2 separate regions of the Homo sapiens genome follow, and region 1 is linked to region 2. Evidence: fine-mapped expression QTL. A gene starts in region 2. The other region holds a variant in brackets. All regions are shown on one strand. Distances are between the middles of the regions.

The links. PIP is the estimated chance that this variant, and not a neighbour inherited with it, causes the effect. A credible set is the group of variants that fine-mapping cannot tell apart.
Region 1: its variant is the best candidate, but not a certain one, in a credible set for the expression of DTWD1 in whole blood (INTERVAL, PIP 0.57).

What each region holds. Positions count from the first base shown.
Region 1 is chr15:49,506,519-49,511,518 of GRCh38, forward strand. FAM227B (family with sequence similarity 227 member B) reads right to left here. Exons shown (of 16, transcript NM_152647.3): 11 at 1,693-1,830. Among named protein-coding and RNA genes, the nearest start is that of FGF7, 86 kb to the left of the region's middle. The variant T/C (reference allele first, on the strand shown) is at 2,074.
Region 2 is chr15:49,618,749-49,624,288 of GRCh38, forward strand. DTWD1 (DTW motif tRNA-uridine aminocarboxypropyltransferase 1) reads left to right here and starts at 2,300. Exons shown (of 5, transcript NM_001144955.2): 1 at 2,300-2,374. FAM227B (family with sequence similarity 227 member B) reads right to left here and starts at 2,070. Exons shown (of 16, transcript NM_152647.3): 1 at 1,952-2,070. RefSeq lists an enhancer at 2,412-2,531.

The sequences.
Region 1 (5,000 bases), 110 kb before region 2:
TGTTCACCAAGACAGACCACATTCTGAACCATAAAACAAGTCTCAACACGTTGCAAAAGATCATACAGAGTATGCCCTCAGACCACAGTAGTTTTTTTTTAATTAGACATCAGTAATTTTAAGATATCTAGAAAGGTCCCAAACATTTGGAAATTAAACAATACTTTTCTAAATAACCCTACTTTGACCTACTAATGGGTCAAAGTAGGAATTACAGTAAATGTTAGAAAATTTTTAATTAAGTGATAAAATACAACATATCTAAATACAACACACTTAAAGCAGTGCTTAGGGAAATTTAATCTTTAATTGCTTATGTGAAAAAAGAAGAAAGAGAATGATTTAAAGAACAAGCAAAATATAAATAATTGGTAGGTAAAGGATATATGGGAGTTGTTAATGCTATTCTTACCACTTTTCTGTTACTTAAAAAGAAAATGGAAAGTTCACAAAATACTCTCAATTTAGTTATTCATATGTGAGGGTGAGAAGTCAAAACAGATAAACAAAATTGGCTCAAGATAGTAGACTATTACTCTTTCTATCAGAAATCCCTAGAAATAGCCCCCCACCCCCCATAACAATATATACGAAGTTTTGGTAAAACACTGAGGATGACAGCAAACAAGAAAATTTCCTGTAACTAATAAAAGATAGAAATCATATTGGATGATATATACTGCGATAAGAATATAGAAAACCACAGTTAAAATAGTGATGCTCTAAATTCAAAATTCTCAGATCTGAAGAAGAATAATTAACTAATTAAATAATTCTAGAATCAGATTAACTAAAGAATAACTTCCCAAAGAGTAGGCTGGGTAGGTTAATTCCTCCTCTTCCTTGGCCTATATCAAGGTATAGGTTAGAAAGGTATTTCCCTCTGCATTAGTGGTTTGTAACATTGCCTGCACATGAAATCATCTGAGGCACTGAGGAACTTTAAACATTACTAAGCCTAGATTCTGATTTAACCAGTCAGACACGAGACCTGAGCATTAGACTTATGTTTGGTATTAAAGAAATAGCATAAACAGGAGAGAAATAAACTCGCCTTACAAAGCTTATTAATGTAGAGTAACTGAGGACTTTGGTCCTGGCACAAGAATTTGGACGTGGCTCAAAGGAACAGAAAAGAATATTAAAATGTAAATGAATTGGTATTTCAAGTAGGCTCTAAGTGGACTATTTAATAAACGGATCATTTGGAAAAAAAAAACCCATCATATTGGAATACAACTATGCTGTTTATAACAAAGAGTTAAATTTATATGGAAATTTAAAAATACTAGAAAAATACAGGTAGGTATTTTTATAATCTTAGTTAAGTCTTCACAAACACACCACAAAACTGAAACCCTAAAGAAAACATAATTTAAATGAACAAAATAAAAAATGTAAATTTATCTATAGAGACAATACATATTAACCAGTTAGCAATACAAGTAAAAGTGAGAATATATGTAGTATACATAAAGACAAAAAGGATAAACATTTTAAAAAATCATTATTTTGTAACAGGCAAATGGAAAAAGGACTTAAGTGTGTACCACTATAACATCAATCTATAAATCAAATGTTATTTTAAGGCCCTCACCAAAAACATAAATCATTAGAAAATTCTGCCTAATAAATAAATTAATTGATTTTTGCTACCTATTCCATTTGGCAGTATACAGAAACTTTACTTACTAGTTGATATATGTTCTTGACTGTCTGCAATTCTTTCCTTTACTGATTTTGCAGGTGCTTTTTTGCTACCATGAATGGTGGTTGTGGAGAGTTCTTTCAGTTTCCAGTGGATCCAAAAGCCTTTTTGAGGTTTTAAACCTGTTAATATAAAATACATATTTAGCCAAATAAATTTGGATTTTGAAAATACCTTTTAATTTGTCAAAGCATTTTTATGATAATTATACATTTCATCCTCACAACAAAAAAGTTCCTTTTTTGTTCCTTTTAAGCTGCGTAGGATTAGATAAGTCATCTAACCACTCTAAACATCTGTATCCTCAGCAATAAAAATGAGAATAACATAAATTATTTTGAAATATATGTTACAGTGTTGGTAAA[T/C]GGGAAAGTATGACACAAATATGAACTAATATTATTATTAATATTATATGTTAACAATAATTATGACTATAACATGCTCATAAATGTAGCCAATATTTTCTCAGCGGTGAGTGTTCAATGAGGGTTATTCACTAGACTGAGCCATCAAATTGTAATTTTCTAAATGTTTTTAGATACAGTTATCACTTATTTAGCAGACTTCAGTTTGATTCACTTGAGTGCTTCTAGATAGATTGCCTATGTTTTAAAATATTGTGCATTAATAGAAAAATTGAAGTATAGTAAGGCCAACAGATCAGCAGATTGCGTTTATAAAGATGGTTTATTACTCACAGTTCCCAAGAGTAGGGGGATGTCATGCCACAGGGGGCCACATGGGCAAGCCCTGGGGCCAGTCAGGAGGCAGAGAAAGAGGGGAGAACTGTGGGGGAGAGTCTTTATTGTGCTTTCCTTAGGAAGGAAGAGGCAAGGCAAGAAGGCCTATGATTGACTAGTTTAAATAATTTCAGTAGGCTTTAGTGCATAGGAGCTACCCCTATCTGGTACCTAGTCCTGGGATGATTTGGGCAGGTGGATAGTGACCCAGAGTGTAACAGCCAAATAAAGGAAATGGTTGTGTGTGACCTCTGAATTGGTTGGTTTGTTTAAAAATCAAAAAGCATTTAAAAAACATGCTCATGGGCAAGTTGCCTCTAGGAATTAACTAACCCTAGGAAGTGCAGTCCTTCTAGGGTCATCAAGGTCCCAGATGTCAAAGTATCAGAATATAGAAAATAAAATACATGGTTAATACTGTCCAGTATTGCATAAACCCTACTTGGTCCTGATATATAAAGAGAGAGAGGGATTACTATGTACCAAACTATGTGCTTGACACAAGGGGCGCAAAAGTCATTTCAATCTAGTCCCTGTCTGCCATCAAGGCAGACGTGAAATTATTTAACATGGTGCCTGATCCCTAGTAAGCACTTAATATAAGTTACTTTCACTGTTACTTTTTTTTTTTTTTTTTGCAAATTAGCCACTGGTTGATATCTGACTACATTCCAACATTATTTACAAGTTTTAATTCAAATTGGTCACAAAACATGAATTGTTCCAAAGAATGACATTAATATAGAGCCACAACACTCGAAATTTATCTTTTCACATTGCCAGTTTTAAAAAACTAAACTCTAGTAGGATCTATTCAAGTATTTCCTAGGAAATTGTTATCCTACAGGATTTAGAAACAAATGGCCCATAAAATAAAGGAGCTAAAAACCTAAAATGTCTTTGCAATTATTTGGTAACTTACATATATTCTAATTTTCATTTTTCATTTTATAAAATTTATACAGACATACAATTTAAAGAGTGAAATTATATGTGAAACTATTTGTTTAATTTCCAAAGTCCCATAGTTCCTCACACATCCCCAAGACCATATCTTGCTTCCCAGAAACAACTATCTTTATCTGGGACCCATAACCATAGCACACACAAAAAAGGGCTATATTGTTACATTTTGATGTATTAATTTTAGGCATTCTATTGACGTCCAACTAGGGAAGATAAAGATTTAACGATCTTTCACCATCCTATCCCATTATCACCACATACAAGCTAACTTTCTATTCTTTACATAATATCAACTGTTATAATTTTCATTGTGTGAATATCAGCATTTACATTATTGTAACTATGTAAAATCTTGTTGACAGCTGAACCAGTTTTCTCTTTTTGAATATAGAGAATAATGTGGACAATTGAGACTTTAAAAATGAATCTGCTATACTTATTTTCTTAAGAAAATTTTTTTATCTGAAGTTAATAATTGTTGGATGTTTTTGTTTTCTTATGTTCTATGTACTTATAATTAACTTAGCTCCAAACTGCTCCCCCCACTATTGTCTAAATTGCCTTTGAATACATTCAGATGCATTAGAGATGCTTTCAGTTTAATATTCTTGGAGACATCTCTCCCAAAGCCTGCCAATGTGCTCGAATCTGAACAAATTTTTTCATTAGGCCTGTGCAGTTATCATTTAGGGAGCTCCCTTCACCAGTATTTTGGAGATTCAATTTACATGTCTCATGTGTTAAAGCCTCCATTTCTTGACTCTCATCTTAACCTCTTCATTAATTTACGCCTTATTTTGGTGGTTTTTTTTCTCCAATAACTTGATGAGAAAAGATGTATATAAGTTAACAATGCCTTCAGTTCATCTTTACACTTACTTGACAAATTGGTTGGGTCTAGGGTCCTAGGTTATAAATAATTTTCCCTTAGAATTTGTAAGACATTGTTCCATTCTCTTCCATCTTTCAAAGCTGCTGTTAAGAGGGATGATACAATTCTGTTTCTTAATCTTTCTGTTCTCTGGAAGTTTTTTTTTTTTAGCATTTTCTTTTTGTTCTCTGGGTTCTGAGGACTCACAATTTACTGTGGCATACAGCAATTTTTATCCATTGTCCTAAGCACTAGATAACCTCTTTCAAACTAGAAACTCAAGTTTTTCAAGCATGGAAAACTTTTTGAAGTAATTCTTTGATTATTTCTTTGCTTTCTCTCTGTTTTCTCTTTTTGAATATAATATAGAGAATTGAGATGTCAAAAACAAAAAGGCTTCTGAAGGGTTAGTTTCTTCCCATTTGAGATGGATGCTTAAACAGATCACTGTGGTCTTCAGTCTTTATTCTTTTTTGAAAATACACATTAAAGGCCATAAATTACCTTCCAAGAACCTTAGCTATCATCTTATATATTTTGAGACATAGTATTTATTCTTGTCAACTTGTTCAAAACTAGTTTCCATTTCTCTAATTTCCATTATGATATCTTCTTTGAAGATTGAGTTAGTAGGCACATATTTCTTATTTTATTTTTTCATTAACTTTTAAGTTCCAGGGAACATGTGTGGATGTGCAGGTTTGTTATATAGATA
Region 2 (5,540 bases):
AGAAACTGCAATGTAAGTATATTTAGACATGGGGGTAACAGATGAAATATTTAAAAGACTTGAATTTTCCTTTGGTGAGAAGAATTGAGAATAGAGTAGAAGGGTTGGGTACTACAGGGTTTTCTTTAACCTAGAATGTGGCAAACTGTTAGTGCTCACCAATATGTGTGTGTTTCTCTACATTTCTCAGGATCCCCGGCAGTTAAAGTGGGGGCCTTGGGACTAAATTCTGGCCAACAGAATGTGGCCAAATTGATACATGTCATTTTTAGAGTTAACCTTGGGTAATTTGCCATACTTTCTTTCTTGTCAAACAAGCTAGTCCTAGAAGGCAGCAGAACCATTAAAAATAAAAACATCTGGCCTTGAATTTAACATTTCGTCTGCCTAGAAATAGCCACAATGGATCTTTTGTGAGGAAAAAAAAAAGTGTATTAAACCACCGATATTTTGGGGTTTTCTGTTACAGAAGTAAATTCACTATGCTGGTTTTAAAACATGGACAAGAAATCTTTGCCAATCCTTTGAGAAGAGGGATCTATGTCTCCTTTCCTAAAATGGAACAGGACTTTGACACATTTGTAAGCAAAAGAAAGTGGGGGAAGTAGCACCGCGTTACTTTTTGAGGCAAGGTCAGAAAAGGTCAGGCAATTTTTGCCTTGTTCATTGCAACACTCCCTTTGGAGCTCTGAGTTTAAGCTAAGAAGTCTGACTACCTTGCTGCCATACTGTGAGGAAACCCCGGCCATATAGTTACAGAAGCTCTGCTAGCATGCCCACTCTAGTCTTTCTAATTGAGTTACCAAAGAAAAGCTGATGACTATGCCCTATTGACAACACCACCTGTGAACATAATAAAATGGTTGTTTTAAGCCACCATATTTTGGAGTAATTTATTACATACGATAGCAACCCAATGCTCAATCTAACAAGTAGTATTATTTGCTTTTTAATCTGTGCAATTTAACTACTTTGATAAAATTTAGAGTTAAACTAAAAAGGAAAATGGTTGTGAATTCTTCTTGGCTTATAGACTTTGCTATTCTACTTTCCCTACCCAGAAAATTCACCTTTCTCCCTAAATCACTGGCTTTCAAACTTTTTAAGGTTTGAAATACAGTAAGAAATACATTTTACAAACAAGCCCTAGTGCACACATACACGCATATATACAATTAAAAGCTCCATAAAGCAGTACTTTACTAACTAACACTAAATTTACTTACATGCGCTGATATTTCCAATCTATATTGTTTCTTTTTTTTAAGTTTAAAGAGATTTCCTTGCTTACAAATGGGTCAAGACCTCCACTAATGGGTCCCACACAATCCCCTTTCCAGTTGAAAAACACTGTCCTAAACCTAAATCATTCTTCAAGGCCTTACCCAAGTCCGAAAAAGAAGCCTTTATTGACCACTCCATTCTCAGCTTTCTTGAAATTCCTGTAATTTATTAAATTCCATTTTTTATCTCAGTAGTAAGAATATTGCATTTTCTGTACTTGAATTTAACATGCTTTACTTGATATCGTGAGCACTTCTAGGGCATTGTAATGTCCTTTATCTACCACTTGATAAATTCAGAGTAGTCAATAAAACATTGCTCAACATTTGACCATTGTGTTTTAAAATCTTAGTTGTTAGAGTGCACTTCCGTTTGCGCATTGTTTGGGGAGAGGCACGGACAAATGTTCTAATAACTTATCCACATATTATACTTCAAAGTGGAAAAACACAAAGTACTCTTAACTCTATATGCGTGTTTTTATGCAAACTAAATCATTAAGATACAAATGATTTTTCTAATAGCTTTCATTACCACACAGCACACGAAATAATGATATTGATATAGCCACGAAAGACTAATGTAACCAAGTTCTCACAATCAAAATATCTTTGAGGTGGGCAAAATGCAAACTTTTCTCTGGGATCAACATTTCTTCACAACTCACTGCAACTACGCCTTGACAGTATGTTTCGAGAACCGCTTCCCAATTTTGTTGTCCCAGCAAGAATCGGGAGGAAACTGGGTGAAAGGCTGCGAGGCTTGAGGCGGGTCCCGGACGAACGCGGCCCTGCCCCTCGCCGGAGCCTCTCGGGAGAAGTGCGACACCGCCGCTGATTGAGAGGCTGAGGCGGAACTTCCCGTCTAACCCCCCCCCCGCTGTCGTCCCAGCCTGTTGCTTAAGCCGCGCGGTGTGCGGTGTGCGCGGCCCCTGCCTTAGCAACGACGCTAGTAACTGCCTGGCTCCTCCCTCTGGTGTCTCCCGGAAAGCGCTCCGTCTGGTCCGTGCGCGATCACGGCCCGGCGCGTGGCTCGGGCTCGGGCGGAGCTGGAGACGTGTGGAGCTGTTCGAGGACTCGCGGGTGTGCAGGTCTGAGTACCACTCCGATCCCTGGTGGAGGTCCCCGCGCCTCTCTGGAGACCAGTGGTCTGGCCCCAGAGGTGCGGCCGCGGGAAGTGGACATTCTTTGTCAGGACCCTAGCGGAGGTCGCGCTGGGTGTCGCCTGTGAGGGGGATCCTCGGTTTCTGCGCGGTCTCTTGCTTTTTTTAGGATCTTGCGGGCCCTTTGGGAAAAAGGTTTCCAAATTTTTCCTCAAAAAAAAAATTATTTTTCCTACCAATGATTTTCGGTGCATTCCGCCCCAACGAAAAGTATGTCCTGGCAAAGTCAGTTCCCTAGGAACCCCATACTTTATTTTATTTTATTTTTAGTATTTGGAGTGGTTTGTGGGGGTTTGGTTATCACGGAAGGGGAAGCGTAGTACAGACGTAGAATTAGTGATGCCATGCAGTGTATTTAAAATATTGAGGTTGTGGTTACATAATAAGCAAAAGAGCCTGTTTCTTACGTCTAAATTATTTATTGGGAATGTAGGACAAATAAGGAAGTATATTAACATTTTCAGTCGCCAGGCCCACAAAGTTGGATGGTAAAATCAATACTGTAGATCGCAGCATGTAAGGACTAACCCAGTGCACCATGAAAACGAAGGCAAGACAGTTTGTTACCATATGGCGGGTGGTGTGGGAGAGGCCATTGATCCTATATGAAAAAGGGTACTACTACCTTGGATTATGAAAAATGAATGTTGGACCTGTAGGTCCTATGTGACCAAGTTCTTAAAAACACTCTAAAGAAAATTGGAAGTGGTTTTTTTCTAATACTGAATTGGTCCACAATATAGGACAGGGGAGTCTGTATAGTGTTCCATTGGGAGGTGAGTCAGCTTACAATAATGGAAGAGGTAGAAGCTTTTTGTTATTATTTTGGAGAAAAAAAAATTGCCAGCCTGCCACTTGTGCTAGGCTGCAGACGGCCCATAAAGGTAGTTTGTCAGATACTTCAGTAGTGAGATGCTTACTGGATGTGTTTTGCAGAATGGTTTTGATTTAGTTAACAAGTGTTTGTTGAGTTCCTGCTGTTGCATAAGAATCAGGAATAGGTGAGATCAGGGAAGGAATCTGCTCTTACAGAGTTGAATGCTGGAGGGGATAGATTCACTAAAGTACCTCCACAATAAATGCATTTTTCCATGTCAAATATGTGGAACTAATAATAAGTACTCAAAGAGGTTTAAGACATTGCTGTGGCCCATCTATGAGTTAATAAGGAACTGAATTAGAATCCTGACTTTGAGAGTGAAGATAGAGGATTATATACAAGGTAGATGCAACTTGGTGAGTATAATTAATTTGGGGTGGAAATTGGGTAGAAGGAGGAATAAAAAATTAATGTATTTTTAGCCTTAAGTTCCAGAATGATGGACGCACCATCAAGGTGTTAAAATTGTTAGTTCCTTAGGAACAGTCTTTATGTTTTCTAAGTCTTTTTAGCCCCCATGACTCAAATTGTACTTCCTTGCACATATTTGATGTTAACAAGTATGTTTTAAAAATTTTAAATAACCCCATTTGCAATAAAATCATTTGCAATGATTTTCTCACAGTCGAGGCAGGCTGTTGGCTCGGTTAGGACAGATGCCCTGATCATGTAGTTTCAGAGACCACTGGAGGGAGCTGCCCATGATTTACAATTGCTGGCCTCTTCTACGTGGCCACCTCAGCCATAAGTGAGAGTATATAGGTGAACTAAGAGGTGGAGCCATAAACATTTCTCTTTTACTGTCTTACAGGTATTTGTGGTGGTTGATTTTTCTAGAGGAAGGTTATTTATATAAAGCTTCACTAATATCCATTTAGTTATGTGGATAGCAGGTCCATGAACTGCAAAGTGATATTTCTGAGGTATCTCTAGGAGGAATGCACTTTCAGTGCCCTAGGATAACTCCAAAAACTCACCAGTAGTTTTCTGTTAAATGTCAGGCAACCACAGTAACTTTCATGACATCCACAGGAACTACATTTTTCAGTCCCACTATGCCTGGGCCTTTGAGTGGTACATGCATTCCCACTAAATAGCTACTCCATTACCCAGGGAAATGAAGTCAGGTTGAGCTACTCCAATCAAATTTCATTTTTTAGGATGAATCCCATCATCTGAATAACTCAGGACTATTAAAGCCTCAAAATGTTTCTCTGTAAGAACCTCAGGCAACACCAGGACAAACCCAAAGAGAGTTTAGGTGAAACTTAGCTTCGTATGTGCAGCAAAGAGACGCCAACAGAGCATTTGCAACTCTCATTTCTGGGGACTATTAGGATCTCTTCCCAAGCTTTTTTTTTTTCTCTGTTTTAGAGATGGGATCTCACTTTGTTGTCCAGACTGTTCTCAAACTCTTGTGCTCAAGTAATCCTCCCACCTTAACCTCCCAAATGCTAGTATTATAGGCATGAGCCACCATGCGTGGCCCTTCCCAAGCTTGGAACTTCCTTACCTGGGTCGTAGATGGACTCTAGGAGATCTCCAAACCTCCTGAAATTGTGTGCAAAATATTGTGTCTGTATATGCATTTTCTAGGGATGCGGTTTAATATTTTCATGTGATTCCTAAAAGAATCTGAGGCTCAAGAAAAGAGGGCATCTTAATATCCTGCACTTTCAGTCATTGAGGGCATGATCACAAAGATCAAAGCCATTTTTAGGCAGGTGAGTTGGAGTGGCAGTCAGAAGTAGGTAAGATTTTCTATTTGTGAGGCAGGAACAAGGGATTGGACCATTGTTCTTAAATACTGCTTTCTTACCCAAAATGCAAATCTGTGCGTAATCAGTACACAGCAAAAATATTTACTGTATTTTGTTTTTCCCCTTGGGTACATTTGGCAAGTGCCTTTTTCTACTATAACCGGCGTTTTTGTATCTCTTTATTTGTATCTCAAACTCACTGGGACTTACAATCTTAAAAAAAAAAAGAAAAAGAAAAATTCATTTGATGAGTAATTAAATTAGTGCCACTAACTTCTTCTCAGCAAATTATGTTGTATTTTATGTTTCTCTGGACTTTTTGTTCACTTTCTGTTTGGGAGACCACAAAATGTTTCCTGCTGGAGTCACAGCATTTCTCTTGTCCCTGTTTCTACTTAAAGTGCCTGGAGCTTCGTAGTTAAACCACAATGCCAGAAGGCTTTATAATAAGAGA